Regions from separate parts of the Homo sapiens genome. Here region 1 is linked to region 2. Evidence: fine-mapped expression QTL. A gene starts in region 2. The other region holds a variant in brackets. All regions are shown on one strand. Distances are from middle to middle. Region 1 overlaps BLOC1S5-TXNDC5 (BLOC1S5-TXNDC5 readthrough (NMD candidate)). Region 2 holds the start of TXNDC5 (thioredoxin domain containing 5).

Region 1 (11,973 bases), 30 kb after region 2:
ACAGTTCTTCACTAATTGCAGTCATCTGGACCTCTGAGTTCCTGCATTGACCCCCAAAACAGGGATCCTGGCAGTCCACATACCTAGACTCCCTTCACCTGGAGCTTTCCAGGTATCTTAGTTCATTCGGGCTGCTGTAACAATACCACCAGACTGGGTGGCTTAGAAACAACAGAAAGTTATTGCTCACAGTTTTGGAGGCTGGGAAGTCCAAGGTCAAGGTGCTGGTAGATTCAGTTTCTAGGGAGGTCTTCTTGCTGTTTCACAGATGGTGCCTTCTTACTGTGTCCTCACATAGTGAAAAGGGGAAGGCAGCTCTCTGGCCTCTATTATAAGGGCACTAATCCCATTCACAAGCACTCCACCCTCATGATCTCACCACCTCCCAAAGACTCACCTCCTAATACCAGCACACTGGTGATTAGGTTTCAACATATGAATTTGGTAGGGACACAAACATTCAGACCATAGCCCCAGGTGAGTTTCGCAGCCCACTCTTTCCTCCAGAACTCTGCCCTCCAAGCCTAGAGATTCACAGGGAACAGAACTTTGCCCATCACTTCCCGGGAGGCTGTGTCATCCCTCAAGGTGGGACTTCTTTCTGCCGTTTTAATGATTTTCTTCCTTAGATTTCTGTATAAGTAGAGGCTTTTGCTAAATTTACTTTTCTTAGGTTATTTATGTAGAATTGGTTGTGGAATTAGTGTTTAGAAATAAATTGTGTCCCCAACCCAAACATCTTTACCTGAGAGACCAGAACATCTTTTTCAAATGAAAGAGCAGGCCGGGCATGGTGGCTCATGCCTGTAATCCCAGCACTTTGGGAGGCCAAGGCAGGTGGATTGCCTGAGGTCAGGAGTTCAAGACCAGTCTGGCCAACACAGTGAAACCCCATCTCTACTAAAAATACAAAAAAATTAGACAGGCGTGGTGGCATGCACCTGTAATCCCAGCTACTCGGGAGGCTGGGGCAGGGGAATTGCTTGAGCCAGGGGGGTGGAGGTTGCAGTGAGCCAAGATTGTGCCACTGCACTCCAGCCTGGGTGACACAATGAGACTCTGTCTCAAAATGAAAAAGTAAAAAAGCATAATTATCTTAGGTGTGGTGATTACAACGGTTTTTTTTCCCTTCCTTTTCTCTTAAACTATATGAACCTTCCAAATTGCACATTCTAAACCTGAAAATTTAGAATTTTTATTATTTTTGCATTGTAGAGTATATGGACTGTAAACTGGACACTGCCTTCACAATTAATCTATTTGTAAATTTATTTGCTTTAAATTAAGAAGTTTGAGCAAACTTTAATACCTTCACTAACCAGTGAAAGACTCCACAGTCCCTATTGTATTTTATTTAATAAATAGCTGATTTAGAAATATCCTACCACTTATTATATGTACACTAATTCAGAGTAAATTAACACCTGTCTCTGAAAAAAGGCAACTTCTCAGTGCTTGACATTCAAATGTCTAAAGATGCATCAGTTTATTCCTTTTTACTTCCGAAGGATACTGCATCACTCAACACATCTATTTCACTTAATGCACATATCCAAACTTTCTTTGTTTGAGTCAAAATTTCTGGTACCAAAGACAATAAAATTAATTTCAAAGTTACTTATAAACAGAATCTCTTATGAAAAACTTACAAAAATATTTTTAAAAATTTAACAAGTATATTTTCTCTTCTTCTCTCTTTGCTGTTTAGTGAAGTTATAACTCCATAGAAATAAAAATCTTTTTTTAGAGAATTTTAGTCCATATTTCTTTTTTTCTTTTTCTTTCTTTCTTTCTTTCTTTTTTTTTTTTTTTGAGACAGAGTTTCTCTCTTGTTGCCCAGGCTAGAGTACAATGGTGCAGTCTCGGCTCACTGCAACCTCTGCCTCCTGGGTTCAAGTGATTCTCCTGCCTTAGCCTCCCAAATAGCTGGTATTCCAGGTGCCCACCACCACGCCCAACTAATTTTTGTATTTTTAGTAGAGACAGATTTCCATCAGCTGGCCAGGCTGGTCTCAAACTCCTGACCTCAGATGATCCGCCACTGGTCTCCTGAAGTCCTAGGATTACAGGTATGAGCCACCGCACCCAGCCTTTATTCCATATTTCATCTCCTGTGGCTATGTCTTTGTTATCTTCTTTATCTTCTCTTTTTAATCCATATGTGTAAACATAAAAGGTTAAGAAACTTTAACAACTGATTGCATTCAGGTAACAAAATCAATGTAATATCCTAAGTCTTCAGACTTACTAATAATGGGAGAACTGTGAAGCCAAGTTCATAAAAAATCAGGTCTTGGATACCTAGTATTTACTCAGTTGTGCCTCCTTGCTCAGTGTTTAAACACAGAAGAATCTACAGCCTCACACACCTAGGTCAGACATAATATAAAATATACCACATGCATTTAATGATGGACAAACCTCAGTGATGTAAGTATAATTTTTCTGCTCAATTAAAAAAACTCTCTGCAATTTTTCATAAACATAAATGTGATTTTTGTTGCTCCAGCCAAACCCTGACACCCACAGCAGCAACCTCCCTTTTGTATCAAAGGAAGAGTCGTGGGGTTCTGAGGTGTGTTGTGTTGCTATGTTCAGCCGAGCAGCTCCAGGGACCCCACCAGAAAGAGCTACTCGTCGGCAGTGGTAGCAGCTACCACTGCTCACATCTGTGTCACTGAGGCTGGAGTCTGGAATTTCTGAGTTACAGGGCTGTCTCTGCCAAAGACTTGCTGGCAAAGTTTTTTGTCTGCAAAATAGACACAATAATGAGGACCTCATAAGGACTTTAAGAAGTGCCCTACACCCTGGAAACTTCTGTTGGCAGAAGTGAAGGGAGAAATTAACTCTTCCCCTAGGAAAAAAAATTTTCCATAGCAGTTCTAAACTTTGTCCCTTGTGTAGGACGATAAGCAGTTTTTAAATGCAAATAAGGCTAGTGATGGAATTTTACAGTCGAGCTCTAAAGACAAACCCAAATGGTGTCATCCTTGATATTCTTTTTTTTTTTTTTTAATTGAGACAGAGTCTCACTCTGTTGCCCAGGCTGGAGTGCAGTGGTGCAATCCCGGCTCACTGCAACCTCCGCCTCCCAGGTTCAAGAAATTCTTCTGCCTCAGCTTCCAGAGTAGCTGGAATTACAGGTGCGCACCACCACACCAGGCTAATTTTTTTATTTTTAGTAGAGACGGGGTTTCAACATGTTGGCCAGGCTGGTCTGGAACTCAAATGATCCGCTGGCCTCAGCCTCCCAAAGTTGCTGGATTACAGGCCTGAGCCACGCACCTGGCCCGAGATTCTCGAGTGGTCCTTCCTAGTCACACCATGGCAATCCTGTCCGGTGAGGCCAAAAGCGTGCCTGAGTTTAGCTGCAGGAGACACGGACTCTGAAGATGCTCTCTGTTATGGGCTATGTTGTGCCCCTCCCAAATTCAAAAGTAGAAGTCCTAACCCCCAGGACCTCAGGTTTTCTACAGAGATAATTAAGTTAAAGGGAGACAATTAGGGTGGGTGGGTCCTCAGCCAGTATGACTGGTGTCCTTACAAGTAGGGGATTAGGACACAGAATCACAGGGGGAAGACCACATGGGGACATGGGGAGAAGATGTCATCTACAAGCCAAGGAGAGAGGCCTCAGGAGAAACCAACCCTGGTGTTTGAGCTACCCAGTCTCGCGTACTTTGTTATGGCAGCCCCAGCAAAGTAAACCACCTCCAAATCTTCCCTCACTTGGCAATACCGAGCCTCCGAATATCCTTCCATTTTGGAAGGAGACGTGAATCCCAGGAATGAATCATTGCTGGCTCCAACTAGATGGCTTCTGCCTAGGGATACACGGCTCTTTGAAGGAGGCGCCTTTTTTTGTTGTTGTTGTTTGAGACGGAGTCTCACTCTGTCCCCCAGGCTGGAGTGCAGTGGCACGGAGGCACCTTTTTTCTGCTGTCCTGGTGAACTTCCTCTTTTTATTCCCCTCTCTGCACTTTTTTAACACAACACAAGACAAGACCGAGGAGCTAAGAGAGCTCCAGCACTGTCCTGCTGTCCAGAAGGAGAACAACCTGAAGTCCTGAACTGCTCAGAACTCTCTGCCGGTGACTCTCCAGTATGTGTCTCAGAGGTCCAAGTGACACACTTTTTACACAAAGTATAGTAAAGCCATTTCTGGTAGCCACCAACTAGGCACATTCTGTGAGTTAGGCAGTTTTTGCCATTTGTAGAATAAAGGAAGTAAACCTTCCTTTGGTTCACATTTTAATCCACAGTCAGTCATGTCAGCCTTTCCTGTTCATCTAGGAAACATCTTGTCAGCTGACACTTATTCCAACATCAGGAAGCTTCTTCTGCTTTGCACTGTGAGCTGACAGTATCTGCTTATTATATACTGTTGTTACATTTATTTGATGGGATGCTTCTCCAGATGTGGAATTATTCATTGTCAAAGGTGCTCAGCCTTGCAGATCTTGATAGTGGTTATAGTAAATGTTGTCTTCAGATTGGGAAATAATCACTTGGTCCCCCATAGTTATCAGCTGGTGATATAAGTGCCCCCCAGCCTTGTGGACTAAGGGGAATTTGCATGGCAGGCCGGCGTTTGCTCCATGGGCTGTCAGGAGCACTTCTACCCAAGCTCACACTGGGCCTCCACGCAGGAACAAGACTCCTGACAGGGGCTCTACTGACAGGGCCCAGTCACAGCACCCACGCCTGATCTCTCAGGGCCTCCGGAGCTCCTGAACTTCTCTCTGACTCACTTGCAGCAGCAACAATTTTGACATTATATTTTTGATATTACTTTTAAACAAGCAAACCAATTAGAATGTGCTTTGAGGATTTACTAAGCTCACAGCAAAATCTGTTTTGTTTTCACAGCTGTGCTCACACGCTTGAATGATGCCATTTCGAGGGAGATAGCATGATGTAATGTTGACGACAGCACAATTGTCATCCTGCTAAAGAGTATTGTGAACTCAATGGAAACGAAAAGTGAGGCTTTCATCTGTAAGCTTAGATCCCATTTATGGCAATCATCTCAACCTCTGCGCAGGGCTCACAGTGGAAATTACTACAAGCTGCCGAACACAGATGACATCATCTTGCCACCCACAAATGTTATGGGTTTGACAGCCCAGAAGATGGCATCCCCTGGGAGGAATACAGCTCTAACTAAGTTGACAAGTTTTGTGTGTTTGAGAGGAAATAGTTTCATAAAAGTTGTTCTCCTCTCCGTTTTCTCTTTGGGTTTGGCAACTGCCACTACAATGAAATTATGGTCACGACAAGGAGCCATTAGCTTTCCCCAGAGCCATGAGCCACAGCTCCCTCTGCGTGGAACGATGTGAGTTTGCAGCCCTTTCCTGTTAGAGCTTTCACAACTTGGAGCTCTGGAGGCTGAGATTTAAACCAGTGCCTATGCTATTGTGCTGTTACTCCTTTGCACTTCTCTCTGCTGTACTGCTAATCACCAGGGCTTTTCAGTTAGGCCACCAGAGCTCACGCATGCCACACAGCTACTGAAGTTGTCATGGATCATAAAGACAGTGTTTCCTGACTGCTAATTCTGCAACTGCTCTCCTGTGTTTGATGGAAGGCTGGACATTTTTTTTTTTTAATGCTCAAATTATCTTCCATTAAAGGACACACACCTTCTTTACATGACCTGGAGCTGTTTCTACCTGCAGCTCTGGAGTCACGGTCATCCCAGATATGCTATTATATCCATATTATGGAACCATGGCTTTCTAGTAATCATAAAAGTGGAAATAAAAGAAAAAGAGGCAGATTCCACAGAAAACAAAAAGAAAAAAGAAGAAAGAGAGAGAGAAAGAAAATGAGAGAGAAGAAAAAAGAAACGAAGAGAAAGAATGAAAGAAAGAAGAAAGAGAAAGAAGAAAGAAAGAAAGAAAGAAAGAAAGAAAGAAAGAGAGAGAGAGAGAAAGAAAGAAAGAAAGAAAGAAAGAATGAACGGAAGGAAGGAAGGAAGGGGCGGCGGGCAATAATAGAAGCACTAAAGTCATAAGCCACCCTGGATATAAATAAGGCACCAAGAGATAAAAAAAAAAATTATCTGGTCTCTTATTTATTAAATCTCAGCACTTGGTCTGGCCAAAATAGGGTTAGTGGAAAAACTGGTTTTAATTACATTTTAATCATCAGTGTCTTTCTTCACTATCCACAACTCTATTGGTGGCTTTAAGACCAATGTATTTCAATATCAACCACCCCCCAAAATGGGGCTTAGGGGCAACTGGCATTTCTGAACCCCCGCACTAAGTCTTCTCTGCCACAGCGCCACCTCTGGTAAGGAAGACTATCGACTCGCCATAGTTTGGAATGAC[TGGGC/T]GGGCGCTGTTCCCCCAATCTTTACACCTTCAGTGTGTCTCATCACCCTGGGGAATATTTGGGGAATGCTGAATCCACAGGATCCCTTACTGCTCACAGAAAGAGTGTCAACAACACAATGTACTATTTAGAAAGAAAAAGGACTGAAAATATTGAGCCTTTAAACAATCTTCTCTCCCTCCTTGCTGCATGCAGAATGGATTCCGTCACCTTCCGGGCCCGGCCCTGGGCTCTCACCCATCTTTGTGATCTGATTATCATCCTGTTACAGCAGTGAACTCAATATACCTTGTGTTAAATTAAAATAGAAGTGTTTTCCCCACTACAATGCAAATTCCTTGGGAGCAGCAATCACCACTTGCTAGTCTTTATATTCCCATACAAAGAAACTTAGTCCATTTTCTGTTGCTTATAACAGAATACCTGAAACTGGGTAATTTATAGAGAAAGGGAATTTATTTCTTACAGTTATAAAAGCTGAGAAGTCTAAGGTCAAGGTGCTGCATCTGGTGAGGGCCTTCTTGCTGGTGGGGACTCTCTGCAGAATCCCGAGGCAACACAAGTCATCATGTAGTGAGGGGGCTGAGTGTGCTAGCTTACATCTCTCTTCTTCTGATAAAGCCATCAGTACCGCTCCTATGACAACCCAATTAGTCTATTAACCCACTGATCCATTAATCCATGAATGGATTAACCCATTTATGAGGGCAGAGCCCTCATGACCCAATAACCTCTTAAAGGCCCCACCTCTCAGTACTGCCACCTTAGAGATTAAGTTTCAACGTAATCTCAATAGAAGAGACAAACATGCAAACCATAGCAGAACCTGCTCAGTAAATGTTTGTTGTACTGAATTATGCTCTCGAAAATATTACCAGATCTGAGGCTCATAGATTTAGCCTGAATAAATCTACTGGCTCATAAATTTACCCTGAATAAAACTACTAGAGCATGTGTTTTATTCATGAACTTAATATCCATATTCAGGTACGCACCATTCCTTATATAAAATCTGGTATATCAGAATTTTAAGATTTTCAAAAGTTAGTTCCTGTATATTACATAGCATGTTAACACTGTGTACATTTACAAAAAGTGTAAGTACAGAAATAAAAACTAGCCTCACATTAGCGAAGATTATGTTTTATGATCAAATAAGCTTGCTGAAAATGTATGAAAAAAAGTCTTTGCTTTCAAAACTTTTTGGATTTCAGAATAATGAAGAATTGTGGAACTACAGCGGAAGAAAAAATGAGTTACTTCTTTTACATTAAACTTCTATAACTGATTTAATCTTCCTTAAAAAACATCCTATTTTATTTCTGTACACTTTCATTTTAAAATTACAAGTAATCTATTAAAACATGCTCATTACTTAAAATTCTACCAATGGAGATAAAGCAAAGTCCTCTTAGATGGCCCCCCTTCTCACCTCAATTTTCTTTCCACAGGAATCCCTTGGCCTCCTGGTTGCTCCACAGGCACTCATCAAGGCACGGAGCAACACCTTGTGTTTATAAAGTCCCCTCGCAAAGCACCCTCACCTCATCTTCCCCCATGACCTGTCCTCACTGCATTCCTTGGAGGTCTATAAAGCAAATTGTGTTATTCTCCATGTTGAGAGATGAGAAAAATTAGAGTTAAGCACATCAAGATTCTTGCTTCCTGTGATAGTGCTAACAAGTGGAAAAGAAGGAAATAGAACCCAAATATTCTGACCTTCAGCATTCTTTATGTTTTCTGTCATCACAACCCCAAATTCTGCTATCATGTGTATTCCCAATACCATGTCTGCAGCCAGGGGTCATTGGTGTATAAACAACTTTTCATCTAAAAGGGTGATATGGGTTGGCTCTGTGTCCCCACCCAAATCTCATCTTGTAGCTCCCATAATTCCCACATGTTGTGGGAGAGACCCAGTGGGAGATGATCGAATCATGGAGGTGGGTTTTTCCCATGCTGCTCTCTTGATAGTGAACGGGTCTCATAAGATCTGATGGTTTTAAAAACAGGAGTTTCTCTGCACAAGCTTGCTCTTTGCCTGCTGCCATCCACATAAGATGTGACTTTGCTCCTCCTCACCTTCCACCATGATTGTGAGGCTTCCCCAGCCACGTGGAACTGTGAGTCCAATTAAACCTCTTTTTTTTTTATTATTATACTTTAAGTTTTAGGGTACATGTGCACAACGTGCAGGTTTGTTACATATGAATACATGTGCCATGTTGGTGTGCTGCATCCATTAACTCATCATTTACATTAGGTATATCTCCTAATGCTATCCCTCCCCCTTCCCCCACCCCACAACAGGCCCCGGTGTGTGATGTTCTCCTTCCTGTGTCCAAGTGTTCTCATTGTTCAATTCCCACCTATAAGTGAGAACATGTGGTGTTTGGTTTTTCGTCCTTGCGATAGTTTGCTGAGAATGATGGTTTCCAGCTTCATCCATGTCCCTATAAAGGACATGAACTCACCATTTTTTATGGCTGCATAGTATTCCATGGTGTATATGTGCCACATTTTCTTAATCCAGTCTATCATTGTTGGACATTTGGGTTGGTTCCAAGTCTTTGCTATTGTGAATAGTGCCACAATAAACATACATGTGCATGTGTCTTTATAGCAGCATGATTTATAATCCTTTGGGTATATACTCAGTAATGGGATGGCTGGGTCAAATGGTATTTCTAGTTCTAGATCCCTGAGGAATCACCACACTGACTTCCACAATGGTTGAACTAGTTTACAGTCCCACCAACAGTGTAAAAGTGTTCCTATTTCTCCACATCCTCTCCAGCACCTGTTGTTTCCTGACTTTTTAATGATCACCATTCTAACTGGTGTGAGATGGTATCTCATTGTGGTTTTGATTTGCATTTCTCTGATGGCCAGTGATGATGAGCATTTTTTCATGTGTCTTTTGGCTTCATAAATGTCTTCTTTTGAGAAGTGTCTGTTCATATCCTTCACCCACTTTTTGATGGGGTTGTTTTTTTTCTTGTGAATTTGTTTGAGTTCTTTGTAGATTCTGGATATTAGCCCTTTGTCAGATGAGTAGATTGCAAAAATTTTCTCCCATTCTGTAGGTTGCCTGTTCACTCTGATGGTAGTTTCTTTTGCCGTGCAGAAGCTCTTTAGTTTAATTAGATCCCATTTGTCAATTTTGGATTTTGTTGCCATTGCTTTTGGTATTTCAGACATGAAGTCCTTGCTCACACCTATGTCCTGAATGGTATTGCCTAGGTTTTCTTCTAGGGTTTTTATGGTTTTAGATCTAACATTTAAGTCTTTAATCCATCTTGAATTAATTTTTGTATAAGGTGTAAGGAAGGGATCCAGTTTCAGCTTTCTATATATGGCTAGCCAGTTTTCCCAGCACCATTTATTAAATAGGGAATCCTTTCCCCATTTCTTGTTTTTGTCAGGTTTGTCAAAGATCAGATGGTTGTAGATATGTGGCATTATTTCTGAGGGCTCCGTTCTGTTCCATTGGTCTATATATCTGTTTTGGTACCAGTACCATGCTGTTTTGGTTACTGCAGCCTTGTAGTATAGTTTTAAGTCAGGTAGCGTGATGCCTCCAGCTTTGTTCTTTTGGCTTAGGATTGACTTGGTAATGCAGACTCTTTTTTAGTTCTTTAAAGTAGTTTTTTTCCAATTCTGTGAAGAAAGTCATTGGTAGCTTGATGGGGATGGCATTGAATCTATAAATTACCTTGGGCAGTATGGCCATTTTCATGATATTGATTCTTCCTACCCATGAGCATGGAATGTTCTTCCATTTGTTTATATCCTCTTTTATTTCCTTGAGCAGTGGTTTGTAGTTCTCCTTGAAGAGGTCCTTCACATCCCTTGTAAGTTGGATTCCTAGGTATTTTATTCTCTTTGAAGCAATTGTGAATGGGAGTTCACTCATAATTTGGCTCTCTGTTTGTCTGTTATTGGTGTATAAGAATGCTTGTGAATTTTGCACATTGATTTTTGTATCCTGAGACTTTGCTGAAGTTGCTTATCAGCTTAAGGAGATTTTGGGCTGAGACAATGGGGTTTTCTAGATATACAATCTTGTCATCTGCAAACAGGGACAAATTGACTTCCTCATTTCCTAATTGAATACCCTTTATTTCCTTCTCCTGCCTGATTGCCCTGGCCAGAACTTCCAACACTATGTTGAATAGGAGTGGTGAGAGAGGGCATCCCTGTCTTGTGCCAGTTTTCAAAGGGAATGCTTCCAGTTTTTGCCCATTCAGTATGATATTGGCTGTGGGTTTGTCATAGATAGCTCTTATTATTTTGAGATGTGTCCCATCAATACCTAGTTTATTGAGAGTTTTTAGCATGAAGGGCTGTTGAATTTTGTCAAAGGCCTTTTCTGCATCTATTGAGATAATCATGTGGTTTTTGTCATTGGTTCTGTCTATATGCTGGATTACGTTTATTGATTTGTGTATGTTGAACCAGCCTTGCATCCCAGGGATAAAGGCCACTTGATCATGGTGGATAAGCTTTTTGATGTGCTGCTGGATTCGGTTTGCCAGTATTTTATTGAGGATTTTTGCATCGATGTTCATCAGGGATATTGGTATAAAATTCTCTTTTTTTGTTGTGTCTCTGCCAGGCTTTGGTATCAGGATGATGCTGGCCTCATGAAATGAGTTAGGGAGGATTCCCTCTTTTTCTATTGATTGGAATAGTTTCAGAAGGAATGGTACCAGCTCCTCCTTGTACCTCTGGTAGAATTCGGCTGTGAATCCATCTGGTCCTGGACTTTTTTTGGTTGGTAAGCTATTAATTATTGCCTCAATTGCAGAGCCTGTTATTGGTCTATTCAGAGATTCAACTTCTTCCTGGTTTAGTCTTGGGAGGGTGTATGTTTCAAAGAATTTATCCATTTCTTCTAGATTTTCAAGTTCATTTGCATAGAAGTGTTTATAGTATTCTCTGATGGTAGTTTGTATTTCTGTGGGATCGGTGGTGATATCCCCTTTATCATTTTTTTATTGCGTCTATTTGATTCTTCTCTCTTTTCTTCTTTATTAGTCTTGCTAGCAGTCTATCAATTTTGTTAATCTTTTCAAAAAACCAGCTCCTGGATTCATTGATTTTTTCAAGGGTTTTTTGTGTCTCTATTTCCTTCAGTTCTTCTCTGATCTTAGTTATTTCTTGCCTTCTGCTAGCTTTTGAATGTGATTGCTCTTGCTTCCCTAGTTCTTTTAATTGTGATGTTACGGTGTCGATTTTAGATCTTTCTTGCTTTCTCTTGTGGGCATTTAGTGCTATATATTTCCCTCTACACACTGCTTTAAATGTGTCCCAGAGATTCTGGTATGTTGTGTCTTTGCTCTCGTTGGTTTCAAAGAACATCTTTATTTCTGCCTTCATTTTGTTATGTACCCAGTAGTCATTCAGGGGCAGGTTGCTCAGTCTCCATGTAGTTGAATGGTTTTGAGTGAGTTTCTTAATCCTGAGTTCTAGTTTAATTGCACTGTGGTCTGAGAGACAGTTTGTTATAATTTCTGTTCTTTTACATTTGCTGAGGAGTGCTTTACTTCCAACTATGTGGTCAATTTTGGAATAAGTGCAGTGTGGTGCTGAGAAGAATGTGTATTCTGTTGATTTGGGGTGGAGAGTTCC
Region 2 (11,973 bases):
TCCTTCCCTTGTGGCCTACTCCTGAGCCCTACTGCAGCATCTGCAGTGTTCCCAAAGGACTATAGCTTGGCTTGGCCCTGGGACACATTCTCTCTGACACTTCGTCCCTAAACTCCACCTAGCTAAATCTATCTGCCCTTCAGGTTTAGTTTGGGTGTCACTTCCTCTAGCAAGTTGGCCCTGACTCCCCGGGCTGTTCAGCACCCATTCTCTTCTCCTGCCCTTCTGGAAAGCCTCTCTACTCCTCCCTTGGACAGTAGCTTAGCACTTCCTGCTGTATCTGCTACTTTTATTCGTCAAGTCTCCTCCACTATATAACCAAATGGCTACAAACATAAGGCAATCTCAAAATTTAATCACCTGCAATTTTCTCCAATGAGAAGGGGAAAAAAAAAGTTTGTGGCCACCTATACTTCTAGGGTTGAAGTAAGCAAATGTCTATTCTTAGTATTCATTGTATGAATTCAGTTATGTATAAATATTTTAAAATCACCCATCATTTAAAATAGTATCTTAACTAGGCTTCTTGCCATGCTTCACATTTCATGAGGATATCAGCATCTTTCCCAACACTAGACCTTAAGTCATACAGCTGACCACAGCTCTTGCTGTGTTCTCTGGACAGTATGTCTACAGTGCCATACTCGAATTTTGAATGAGACAACCCTAGAAACTTTATCCCAGGTTTCAACTACAATCCCATAGCATTATGACACATGGGTTTGTTTGCTATTTAATATGGCAGGAACACACTGATGCCTACAATGTAACCACTTTGCTGTATCGCTTTTTAAAATGCTTTTTTTTTAAACACACTTGCTTATATGAACACTCAACGCTTAGAATTGTGACTTCTTCCTCAAAATAATTTAATAATCTGTTAAATCTCCTTTTATTTTCTGACAGATTACCTCAAAAATAAGCATTTAAGTCGGTAGCAGTGGCTCATGCCTGTAATCCCAGCACTTTGGGAGGCCAAGGCAGGAGAGCTGCTTGAGCCCAGGGGTTCAAGACTGGCCTGGGCAACACAGTGAGACCCCCATCTACAAAAAATTTTAAAAAATTAGCCTGGTGTGGTGGCACACACCTGCAGTCCTAGCTACCTGGGAGGCTGAGGCAGAGGGATCACTTGAGGCCAGAAGTTTGAGGCTGCAGCGAGCTATGATCACACCACTGCACTCCAGCCTGGGTGACAGAGATTTTGTCTCTTAAGAAAAAAAGGATTTAAGCCGGGTGTGGTGGCTCACACCTATAATCCCAGCACTTTGGGAAGCCGAAGCAAGCGGATCACAAGGTCAGGAGTTCGAGACCAGCCTGACCAACAAGGTGAAGCCCCATCTCTACTAAAAATACAAAAATTAGCTGGGCATGGTGGCACACGCCTGTAATCTCAGCTACTCAGGAGGCTGAGGCAGGAGAATCGCTTGAACCCGGGAGGCGGAGGTTGCAGTGAGCCGAGACCATGCTATTGCACTCCAGCCTGGGCGATAGAGCAAGACTCCATCTCAAAAAAAAAAAAAAAAAAAAAAGAAAAACAGACTTAAAGGTAGCACTGAAAAAGTCTGCTTCAAGTTAATGTGTCTTCCCTAAACAGCACTTTCTTGGCCAGCTAAGAGAATCCCTGCTTTATGAGATACTCAGATACAAAAAAAAAAGCACAATGAAACTATACATGCAGATTTAACTTCTGTAGATTCAACAAAGTGAGTTTATGTGGCGGGGGAGAAGGAAACAAGAAAAAAAAAAAGGCAATTCCCACAGAACCCTGAAGTGTGTGCAAGCTGGGAGATGTGAGGTTTTTGTTCCTCAGCAGGCCTTGGTTCCTACATGCTTCTCATGGCATGAGCATCTCTCCGACTACATTAAGTGTGACCCTGCTGTCTAAAGGCACAGGTTTGAGAACTAGTCCATTTGGTGTTTAACCAAAGAAGCCATGATAGTTCTAATGCTGGAGGAAACGCTGGCAGTGGGGACTGACTGACTGACTGGGGCGGTGTCCAACAAGGCACCTTCCTAAGGGACTGTCAAGGGCAGTTCTGACCTTCAGGGGACTTTGATCAGATATGCTCATTCTGGAACTTTAGAACTCCTCTGCAATCTTGACAAGGTTTTGTTTTGCTACTGCTTTTTTTTTCCCTTTTTTTTTTTTGAGAAAACACAAGATTAGATTAAGAATGAGAATAAACAATAAATAAGTTTGTGGTGCGCTAAATCAAAACTGACCATTCTGGGCCATCACCAAGTTGGGCGTGCCCTTGCTCCTGGCTGTGATGGGGCCACAGGTGCTATCTAGTCGGCCCTGCGGCTACAGCACCCAACTCTGAGACAGGCAGCTGCACTCAGAAGGTAGCCTGTGGCCAAGAAGTAGAGCAAAGCTACCTGGTCCAAATCTTGACCTCACTGTCACCAGGTTCAGGGTGACTCACAAACTGGCCATACAGAAGTTGTGACCTGATGTTGGCAAAAAATCTACAGCAGCAGGATAACCCTGCAGAAGCCAAGTGCAGGGCAAAAATACACAGATTGATGTTTTTGTTACAGGGGCCCCAGCCCCTTAATCACACGTGGGCTTTCACCACTCCACGGCAGCTGAAACTGGAAAAAGGTATGTGTGTGTTGAGGGGGAGTCCACTGAGTCTTCTATCTGAGCTCCAAACGCTCAGCTCACCACTCCAGGACCTCCTTCCCTCTCCTGCATAGACCCCTCCAGAGTCACCACCTTGCTCTCAGCCTTACAACTTACCAAAGTGTTGTGCCAGGTATTGTTGGTCCTACTTGATCTTGCCCCTGCTGACCTCCCATTTGACTCGCCGCCCACTCAGCCTCCTTTCCTGGCAGCCTATTCGTGAGCCCTACTGCAGTATCTGCAGTTTTCTGAAAGGGCCCTCTTAAAAGTCCAACTTAAACACCATCATAGAAACCCACATATCTCTGTTTAAGTATTTGTAGTAGACTATCAAGAAGTCAACAAATATGCCAGGTGCGGTGGCTTACGCCTGTAATCCCAGCACTTTGGGAGGAAGAGGCGGGCAGAACACGAGGTCAAGAGATCGAGACAATCCTGGCCAACATGGTGAAACCCCATCTCTACTAAAAATACAAAAATTAGCTGGGCGTGGTGGCACGCACCTGTAGTCCCAGCTTCTCAGGAGGCTGAGGCAGGAGAATCGCTTAAACCCAGGAGGTGGAGGTTGCAGTAAATCAAGATTGCGCTACTGCACTCCAGCCTGGCAACAGAGCAAGACTCCATCTCAAAAAAAAAAAAAAAAAAAAAAAGTAACAACATAAAGCTAATTATTCTGGAAGCATCCAGCTAAATGTCTACAAGCCACATATAATGGAAAAGGAATTTACTTAATACCAAGTGCCCAGATGTGCCAGTTTTCTCTCACTCAGCCCAGGACTAGCTGGTATTTATTGCAAAGATTCTAAACTTAAAATTCCTTTGGCACTGTGGGGACTTATTACATCTGCATGTCAGTTTTTCTTTAAAAAAAAAAAAAAAGTAAAGAATGGGATGCGATGGCTCATGCCTGTAATCTCAGTACTTTGGGAGGCCAGGGCAGAAGTACTGATTGAGGCCAGGAGTTTGAGACCAGCCCCGGCAACATAGCGAGACCCTGTTTCTACCAACTACAACAAAAACAACAACAACAAAATAAGCTGGGTGTGATGACCTGCGCCTGTAGTCACAGCTACTTCAGAGGCTGAGGCAGGAGAATCACTTGAGCCCAGGAGTTAGAGGCTACAGTGAGCTGCGGCTGCGTACCACTGGTTTCAGGCTGGGTAACAGAGCAAGATCCCATCTCTAAAATAAATAAATAATGAAGAAAGAAAAAAGAAAACCCATCGACAGATGTATTCCACTGAAATAGGCTCCAATTAAGTAGTACACTTAATTGAAATAGTTGCTGAGAATACTCCCGAACAAAGAGAAACTGTTAATACTGCCTGATTGTTTTATGTTACAAAGTAATTTCTAAACCATTGGAGTTGTAAAAATTCGAGTCAGTTGGTTCTTAGGAATGTGAAACATAATGTACTTCATATACACATTGTTAATAAACCCACAGTGGCCCTAAAAGTTGATTTAACTCCAAATGAACTGAAACGCAGTAATAGCCTGAATACAAGGTTAAGAGAAAAACGTTTCTCCCAGTTTGAAAGGTACAATTTCTGAACTGGCCATTTTTCTTAGGGTACCTTTTCTCTATGCCTCCCTACATCCCTTTCCCAAGTGAGCCTCTACTGAGCTCTGGGGAAGAATACCAAGTTCTGCAACAAGAACCTGCAGGCTATTCCAACCTCTCAAAGGTCTTGTGTCCTAAAATTATGGCTTTCTGCTCTGGCCTGTGGTCACTTCCCTTCCTCGGGGCATCCCGGCACTGGCAGGAAAGCTGTGCACATGCTTGTGTGAATGACAGGAAGCTCTTCCGTGGGATGAGTGCCAGGGTAGGGTCTCTCAGGTCAGCAGCGAGGCCCACACCAAAGCCTCGCCCAGAGAACCAAAGCAAGAGGGACCATCTGCTCAACGGAGGGGCTTTTCCGATCTCACACATAACAAGTGACCTGGACCCGAGAGAGCAGCAGGGAGGTGACAGGACAGCCTGGAGTTGAGGACCAGTGGGCTCCGTTCAGAGATTACATCCACCCTGAGCTGCAGGGGGGCGGAGGGGTTCCAGAATTCGCACTACCTTGGTCTTCCCGGGGTAGCTCAGCAACCCTCCTCTGCCCGGACCACTCCTTCCTATCCCACAAAAGACGCACAAAGTGGGAAACCACACCTTCCTGGGTTCTATTTTTCAGTTAAAGCCTCTGGAAGGGGACGTGCCCGCAGTCTGTCCCAGCCGACCCCGGTGGCCGCGGCAGCAGCAAGGCCGCTCTGGTGAGTGCACGTGGCCCACGGGCAGGCCGCGCGTCCGGCCGGCACAGGAAGTTTGGGGCGCTGGGCAGGGACCGCGGGGTGACATTTGGACTCCCGGCTGCCCGAAAGGGCGACGACCCCACCTTCCCCTCCCTCGGTGCCGAGGTGCAAGAGGCGGTTGAATTCAGGAGCGCGGCGCAGGGCGGGCTTTTCCCGGCTGTCCCCTAGGGGTCCGCCCCCTCCTCCCGCACCGCCCCGGCCGCCGAGCGCCACGTCAGCCGCCAGTGCCCGGCCCGCTGAGCTCACGCCTCCCGACCCGGAGCCCCAAGCCCTCGGTCCCCTGCAGTCCCCGGCTCCCGGCCCCGAGCCGCGGCGCCCGCGCCCCCCGCTCCCCGCCAGCCGGAGCCCCGAACCCGCAGGGTCCCCGCGCTCCCGGCCCCGCGCCCCCAGTATTACACCCCGCACCCCTGAGCCCCGAGCCCCGCGCCCGTAGCACGCACGCCGCAGACCAGAGCCGTCGGCGTCCACGTGGCCCCGGGACCCCCCGCCCGCGGCGCCCAAGCGCCCCACGCCCCGCGAAGCGCCAAGTGCGGGGCAGGGCGCCGGCCTGCGCGGCGTTACCAGGGCGCGAAGAACATGACGAAGTGCGCGGCGCTCTGGATCCCGTGCGTGAACATGTCGGCCGTGTACAGGTGCTTGCTGTGCGGGTCCTGTCCGTCCTCGCCGTCTGCCGCGGGGGGCCCGTCCGCCGCCGCCGCCGCCGCCTCCTGGGCCCGGGCGCCCCAGCGCCCGCCGCCGCCATGGCCCAGCAGCAGCAGCAGCAGCGCAGTCAGGGCCGCCGGCCGGGCCAGCAGCGGGAGGAGGCGTCCTGGGCGCGCGGGCATCGCGGCGGGGCTGGGCGCGCTCTCGCCGCGGCCTCCGGTCCCCTCGCAGCGCCCGCCCCGCGCCCCGCCCCGGAGAGGCCGCGCCCCTTCCTCTCCCCGCCCGCCCGCGCCGGCGCGCGACCGCTACCCGCCCGAGCCCCGGCTCCGCGCACCGGCAGGGAAGGGCTGGAGCGAGGGACCGAGTCTGGGAGAGCCTTCCGAGTCCGGCCTCCTGCCTTCCCGCCATGGGACGGCTCGCCCCAATCCCGCGAGGCTCCTGCGCCTCCGCAACCCAGGCCCGCACCCCTTTCCCCAGGGGCCCGCTCTGCTCAGAGCGGCGGTGAACACACGAAGTAACGATGAGGCCAGCGGGAAGCCACGGAGGGGCAGGTCAGCCTCGGCTAATCTCAGCTCACACAAGCACCCCGCGATTTCAGGCCAAAGGAAGGAGAGAGCTGCTGTCAGCAGAATATAGGAAATCGGGCAAAAGACGGTGGGGTTTGCACCTGAATTAGTTAGATTCTTGGCCAGAGCTCAACTGTGATTCTCGACCTGGGCTCAGAGGGGTGATGAAACCCGCTTCCCAAGTGAACCCCTTGCTGGTTACCCCTGCCCGGCCTCAACTCAGGGATGAAGAGGAAAGAAAGTCAAAGCGGCCTCTTCTAGACAAGAAGGCACCTAGCAGGACTGACTGGGGTCCTACTGTGCCCTCATTTATGCCGGTTACTAAAATGAATGACAGCACGCCTGCTATGGCTGAACTCAGCCTGTGGAATGGCCCGAAGGCATCCCTGCCCAGCGACTCATAACTCGCACCTGCACACACACCTTACAGCAGATGGTAATCGAAAGCTCCAGCCCTACCCCGGGGATCTGAAGCTAAATTAGAATCACCGGGTTGCTCTCCGGGATCCTGCCTGCTCTTTGATTATCCTCAATCCAGGAAGCCCCAGGTAGTTAACTCCTGGCTTGGCAACAGGGGACGCGCCCACTGTCTCACCTGTCATTATTCTGCTCCCGCCTTAGGCCCAGCCACTTATGAACCTTTAACCATGGGTTGCCAAACACCAAAACCATCAATCTCCCTCCAAAGTCTGTTCTTCCAGCCACTTAAGCTTGAAACATGGGAGGCATCTTGTATTGCTCGCTCTTTTCCCGTGTGTCTCAAAATTCAACCGCATTTCCTGTAACCATGATTTCCTTCCAGCATTCTCAGTGTTCATACCCTGAACGGAGACTAAGCCTGGCCTATTGCAGTAGCTTTCTAAGAGTCTCTTTCATTCACATGGCTGGAAAATTAATTTTCCTAAAGCCTGCCTTTGACCAAGACAGTTTGCTGCTTAAACTTGGACCAAAACGCCACCACTGTCCCCATGGCCTTGGCCGATGGGGTGAAATAGTCATGCCTGGGGCAGCCATTCAAGGCCTTCCGTGATGTGGTTGCATCATGCTTTGTGTCCCTGTGAAACTCACTCAACACTAGAAATCCAGGGATTCTCTCCAATAACTGTTATTGCCAAACTCTAATCCCTGTGTTCTCCAACACCTCAAACCTCCCAAACCCTTCCACGGTGCTGTTGGGAAATTCCCACAAGCATCGCCATACACTCTTACAGCATCAGTGTCTTTCGTTTTTAACTGAAACACAGTTCTAGGAGCTCTCTCAAGTGTTGGCTGCTCATTCTTTCACACCTGGAGTCCCTCAGAGCCAGGAAGTAAAGCTGATGCCTTCCTGGTTCCCCATTGCTCCTTCCAAATCCTACAAAACCTTCAGTACTCCTTAAATTGATGCCACTGGGCATGGCACCCTCTTCCCTGCCAGTTCCTGTCATTCTTCCACATCACTCTTCCTGGTTCAGTGAAGACTTTGGTTCCTGGCTCACAGTGTTCCTGGCCACCCCTTTCCTGTCTTTCATTCCTGGCATCTTCAGCATCCAGGTGGATGCTCCATCTACCTTTCCCTCAGTAACTCACACCCAAAAGGGAGACCCTAGCACTTGTCATCACCAGCATCTGCACCATCTCCAAAATCTGAAGGCATCCACTCTGCCCAGCACCTCCTCGACTGTTTGCTCAAGAAACCCATTTCTGCAATGCTTCTTTCTCATCATGACCTCTGAGCTACCCACCCCACCATCTTCTACAATCCCCTCGCAGCCCAACAGACTGCTATGTCTTCTCTTGCCTCTTGGCCAAGTTACAGCCCATGGAGTCTCACCCTTCACTTCCTGCCCTGCCACATTCTCCCCACAGATGCTGGTGAGCTTTGTCTCTCTGGGTTCCCTGTGCCTTCAACCAGGTAGCCAGACTCTGCTGGAGAAAAATCGCACAGTCAAGCCGCATGTCTCCTTCACACTGGTAAAAATAAGCCTTAAATTCCTCCTCACCCCTGCCCTAAAACTGACTACCTCTGCCTAGGCAGTGTGCTGCCCCACTCTCTGAGATGCTTCCATACTTCCACTGACACTGCTCCTCCTCTCCTCTCCCCACCCCACCCTGTCAGTCGCCATCCTCTCAGCTGCCAGCTTTATCTCATGTTTCTGAGAAAAATGAAGCCAAAAGCATGAGCTCCCTTATCCCTCCCCCGCCAAATCTACACACCCCTGCACAGGCGCCTTTCCCTCTGCCCACAAAGGAGCAAGTCAGTATATCCCTGCCTAGCAAAGCCCAGTCCTCCAGAATAATGCCCCTCACGGATAACCAGGTCCTAATTCCTGAAACATCTGATTGTTTCTTTATATGGCAGAAGGCTTTGCAGGTGTGATTAAATTAAGGGTCGTGAGCTGGAGAGATTACCCTGGATTATCTCGGTGGGTCCTAAATGTGATCACAAGTGTCCTCATAACAGAGGGGCAGTAGGAAATTTGACTACACAGCCGGAGGCGACGTAACAAAAGCAGAAAGAGATTTGAAGATGTTAAACTGCTGGTTTGGAAGATGAAGGGGCCAAGAGCCAGGAAAAGCAGCTCTAGATGCTGGAAAAAGCAAGGAAATAGACTCCCCCTCAGAGCCTCTGGAGGGACCTGCAGTCCTGTGGACAATTTATAGTCCAGTGCAACTGGTTTTGGACTTCTGACCTCCAAAACTGTAAGAGAATAAACGTACGTGGTTTTATGCCACCAAGAGTGTGGTGTTACAGCAGCCCTAGGAATCTCATATGCCCTCCCTGCTCCCTGCTCAAAGGCTTTGTTCTTCAGCTCCTCTCTTTCTCTCCTGCACAAGTTACTCATCACTCCTTCCTACTGGACCATTTTCATCAGTGTATAAGCAAAAAAAAAAAAAAAATTATCTGTATTTCACTTTCCATTCATCCTTCAGCTCATGCCACTCTGACTCTCAAACCTGCCACACACCAAGTCTTCTCAAAGTCACTGAAGATGTCCACATTGACAAGTCAAATGAACACTTTATGTTCCTCATCTTCCTGGGCTTCTCAGCAGCGTTGGTACAACTGCCATTGGCCCCATCTGCATCCACCGTCCTTTCTGCTTCTCTGATCTACCTCCTACCATCCCCACGTCACTCCTCAGTCTCTTCAACCCAACCTTTGATGTCAGTTTTCAGCGCTCAGCCTCCAACCCACTTTTGTTTCTCTGCATCACTCCCTAGGTGATCTCATCCATAGCCATGGCTTTAACACCATCTATATGCTGCTGCCAAAGTGTACATTTGCAGCCGAGGCCTCTCTCTGAGCTCTCACTATCTACAGGATGCCTCCTCTTGTTTGTCCTGCAGGTGTGCTGAAGCTGACCTTGTGCTTCCCTGCAGCAATCTGCTTGTCCTCCGATTTCCCCTCCTCAGTAAATAGTTCTTCCTCGCTGTTGCACAAACCAGAAACCTGAGTTGCAAACTTTGTCTCAGACTCCTGGCCTCAAGTGATCTGCCTGCCTCAGGCTCCCAGAGTGCTGGGATTACAGGTGTGAGCCACCACCCCCGACCTCTGAGTTGTAAACTTTGTTACCCTTTTTCTTTATTGCAGTGCCTTGATCCCCGCCTCCTACTCGATCTCCCCATCAGCAAGTCCAATCATTGCCATCTCTGAGCCACAGCTCCCACTGACTGATATCTCTCCACTGCTGCCATATCCTTCTCTTCCTGTCTGCTACAGTAGCCTCCTGAATGTTGTTTCCACTCTTAAGTCCTTCCCATCCATCCTTCATCCAGCAGCTAGAATTGAATCGTGTCACTCCTTTGCTTAACTTCCTTCAGGGGCTTCCCTTCACATACAGTCAAATTCCAGCTCTTTGCCTTGGCTTGCAAGGGCCTTCAGGAAAGATGCAATCTCAACCCATACCACTCTGCCCTCTGCTCGCCTAGATTCTAGCCATTAGGGATGATTCTAGATACCCTCCCAGCATTCCCCTTCTCAGGCCCTTGTGTGTGGTGCCCTGTGCTTGTTCCCTTCCTGTCTTCTGTGACTGGACTCCCTGCACCCTCAGGTCTCTTGCCCCCACGCCACCTCCTCAGTGCCTGGCGATTGCCTTTCCACATTGACAAGTCAAAGCCCCTCTCTGCAGCAGCCTCCCTCTGCCCACTGAGCTCTCACCAGTGCCATGCTGTTTAATTTCTGCATAACACTTTTTGTCATTTGATGCCATTTTGTTGCAGACTTAGCTGGTTAAGGTGGCCGTCTTCTCCATCAATAAGCTCCCCGAAGGCCAGGGGCTATTTGCCACATTCACTTCTCTCTCCCTAGCACCCAAATGCCTGGATACAGTTGAGGCTCAACAAGTGTTGGATGAAGGAACCCCTCTTTCTAACCACATCTCTTTCCCAGGCTCCACCAAAACAAACTGACTCACTGTGCCTGGCACCTTCTCTCACATGCGGCCTTTCCTGCATGACCCGGCCACCCCTCCACACAGGCTGCTCAGCGTCACTTCCTCTGAACTCCCAGCCCTCCCAAGGGACTGACATGTTGCTTCATATGGTAGCAGCCACACATGGTCCTGCTTAGATTCCCATCGCCAAGCAGCGTGGCTTCCAGCTCAGAAAGCCTAAAAGTGAAGATACAACTGAATTTGTGTACAGCGATGAAATAATACAATGTTCTCAGTAAAAAATTCCCTGACCTCCAGCTGGGGTTAGGCTTCCTGCACTAATATCTTGTCCTTTCTCCCCATATCCCTTCACAGAAGGGTAATTATTTGGTTGTGTGAATTTTGTTTAGCCTCGGACTTTCCCTCTAAACTGTAAGCCCCATGGCCTGAGAGGTGTTTACGTGATGTCTGGTACACAGCAGGCATTTAATACCTGATATGGTTTGGCTGTGTCCCCACCCAAATTTCATCTTGAATTGTAACTCCCACAATTCCCATGTGTTGTGGGAGGAACCCGGTGGGAGGTGATTGAATCATGGGGACAAGGTCTTTCCTGCACTGTTCTCATGATAGTGAATGAGTCTCATGAGATCTGATGGTTTTAAAAAGGGGAGACTTCCTTCATAAGCTCTCTTCTCTTGTCTGCTGCCATGTGAGACGTGCCTTTCACCTGCCATGATTGGGATGCCTCCCCGGCCACTTGGAATTATAAGTCCAGTAAACCTCTTTCTTTTGGAAATTGCCCAATCTCAGGTATGTCTTTATCAGCAGCGCAAAAACAGACTAATACGATACCTGTTTGTTGAATGAATGCATGAAGGAATGGATGAAAAGTCACATTTGTCTACCCTCAGAGGATGGCTTGCTTGAGAGAGACCCCCCTCAAAATCATGGCCTTTCCCAAGCAGAAAAGGCAATAGGTATGTTGGTCTGTATTGTTAGAAGTTAGTACTACTTCTAGCAAAATAGTATTGCTACACTGCCTTCTTTTTTTGAGACAGATTCTTACTCTGTCACCCAGGCTGGAGTGCAATGGCATGCTCTTGGCTCACTGCAACCTCTGCCTCCTGGGTTCAAGCAATTCTCCTGCCTTAGCCTCCTGAGTAGTTGGGACTACAGGCACCTGCCACCACACCCGGCTAATTTTTGTATTTTTAGTAGAGACGGGGTTTCACTATGTTGGCCAGGCTGGTCTCAATCTCCTAACCTCGTGATCCACTCACCTCGGCCTCCCAAAGTGCTGGGATTACAGGCGTGAGCCACCACGCCCGGTCTACGCTGCCTTCTTATTGCAAATCCACAGCCTTCAAGGAGCTGCACTCCCTTCCGACAGCAGCCCTGTAGGTGCATGGCAAAGCCTCTCGTTGGAAGCTGTCCTCATCCCAGGGAGCACATAAGAACTGACATGGGAGGAATGGCTACTGAA

What was found.
Region 1: its variant is fine-mapped to the expression of TXNDC5 in whole blood (TOPMed, PIP above 0.99).

Annotation. Positions count from the first base shown.
Region 1 is chr6:7,934,704-7,946,676 of GRCh38, forward strand. All of the region lies in intron 4 of BLOC1S5-TXNDC5 (BLOC1S5-TXNDC5 readthrough (NMD candidate)), which reads right to left. Among named protein-coding and RNA genes, the nearest start is that of TXNDC5, 30 kb to the left of the region's middle. RefSeq lists an enhancer at 4,161-4,230. The variant TGGGC/T (reference allele first, on the strand shown) is at 6,336.
Region 2 is chr6:7,905,029-7,917,001 of GRCh38, forward strand. TXNDC5 (thioredoxin domain containing 5) reads right to left here and starts at 5,760. Exons shown (of 10, transcript NM_030810.5): 1 at 5,486-5,760. The coding sequence starts at 5,748. The region is part of intron 4 of BLOC1S5-TXNDC5 (BLOC1S5-TXNDC5 readthrough (NMD candidate)); the gene reads right to left. RefSeq lists silencers at 4,835-4,924, 5,125-5,244, 5,615-6,044 and an enhancer at 7,885-8,034.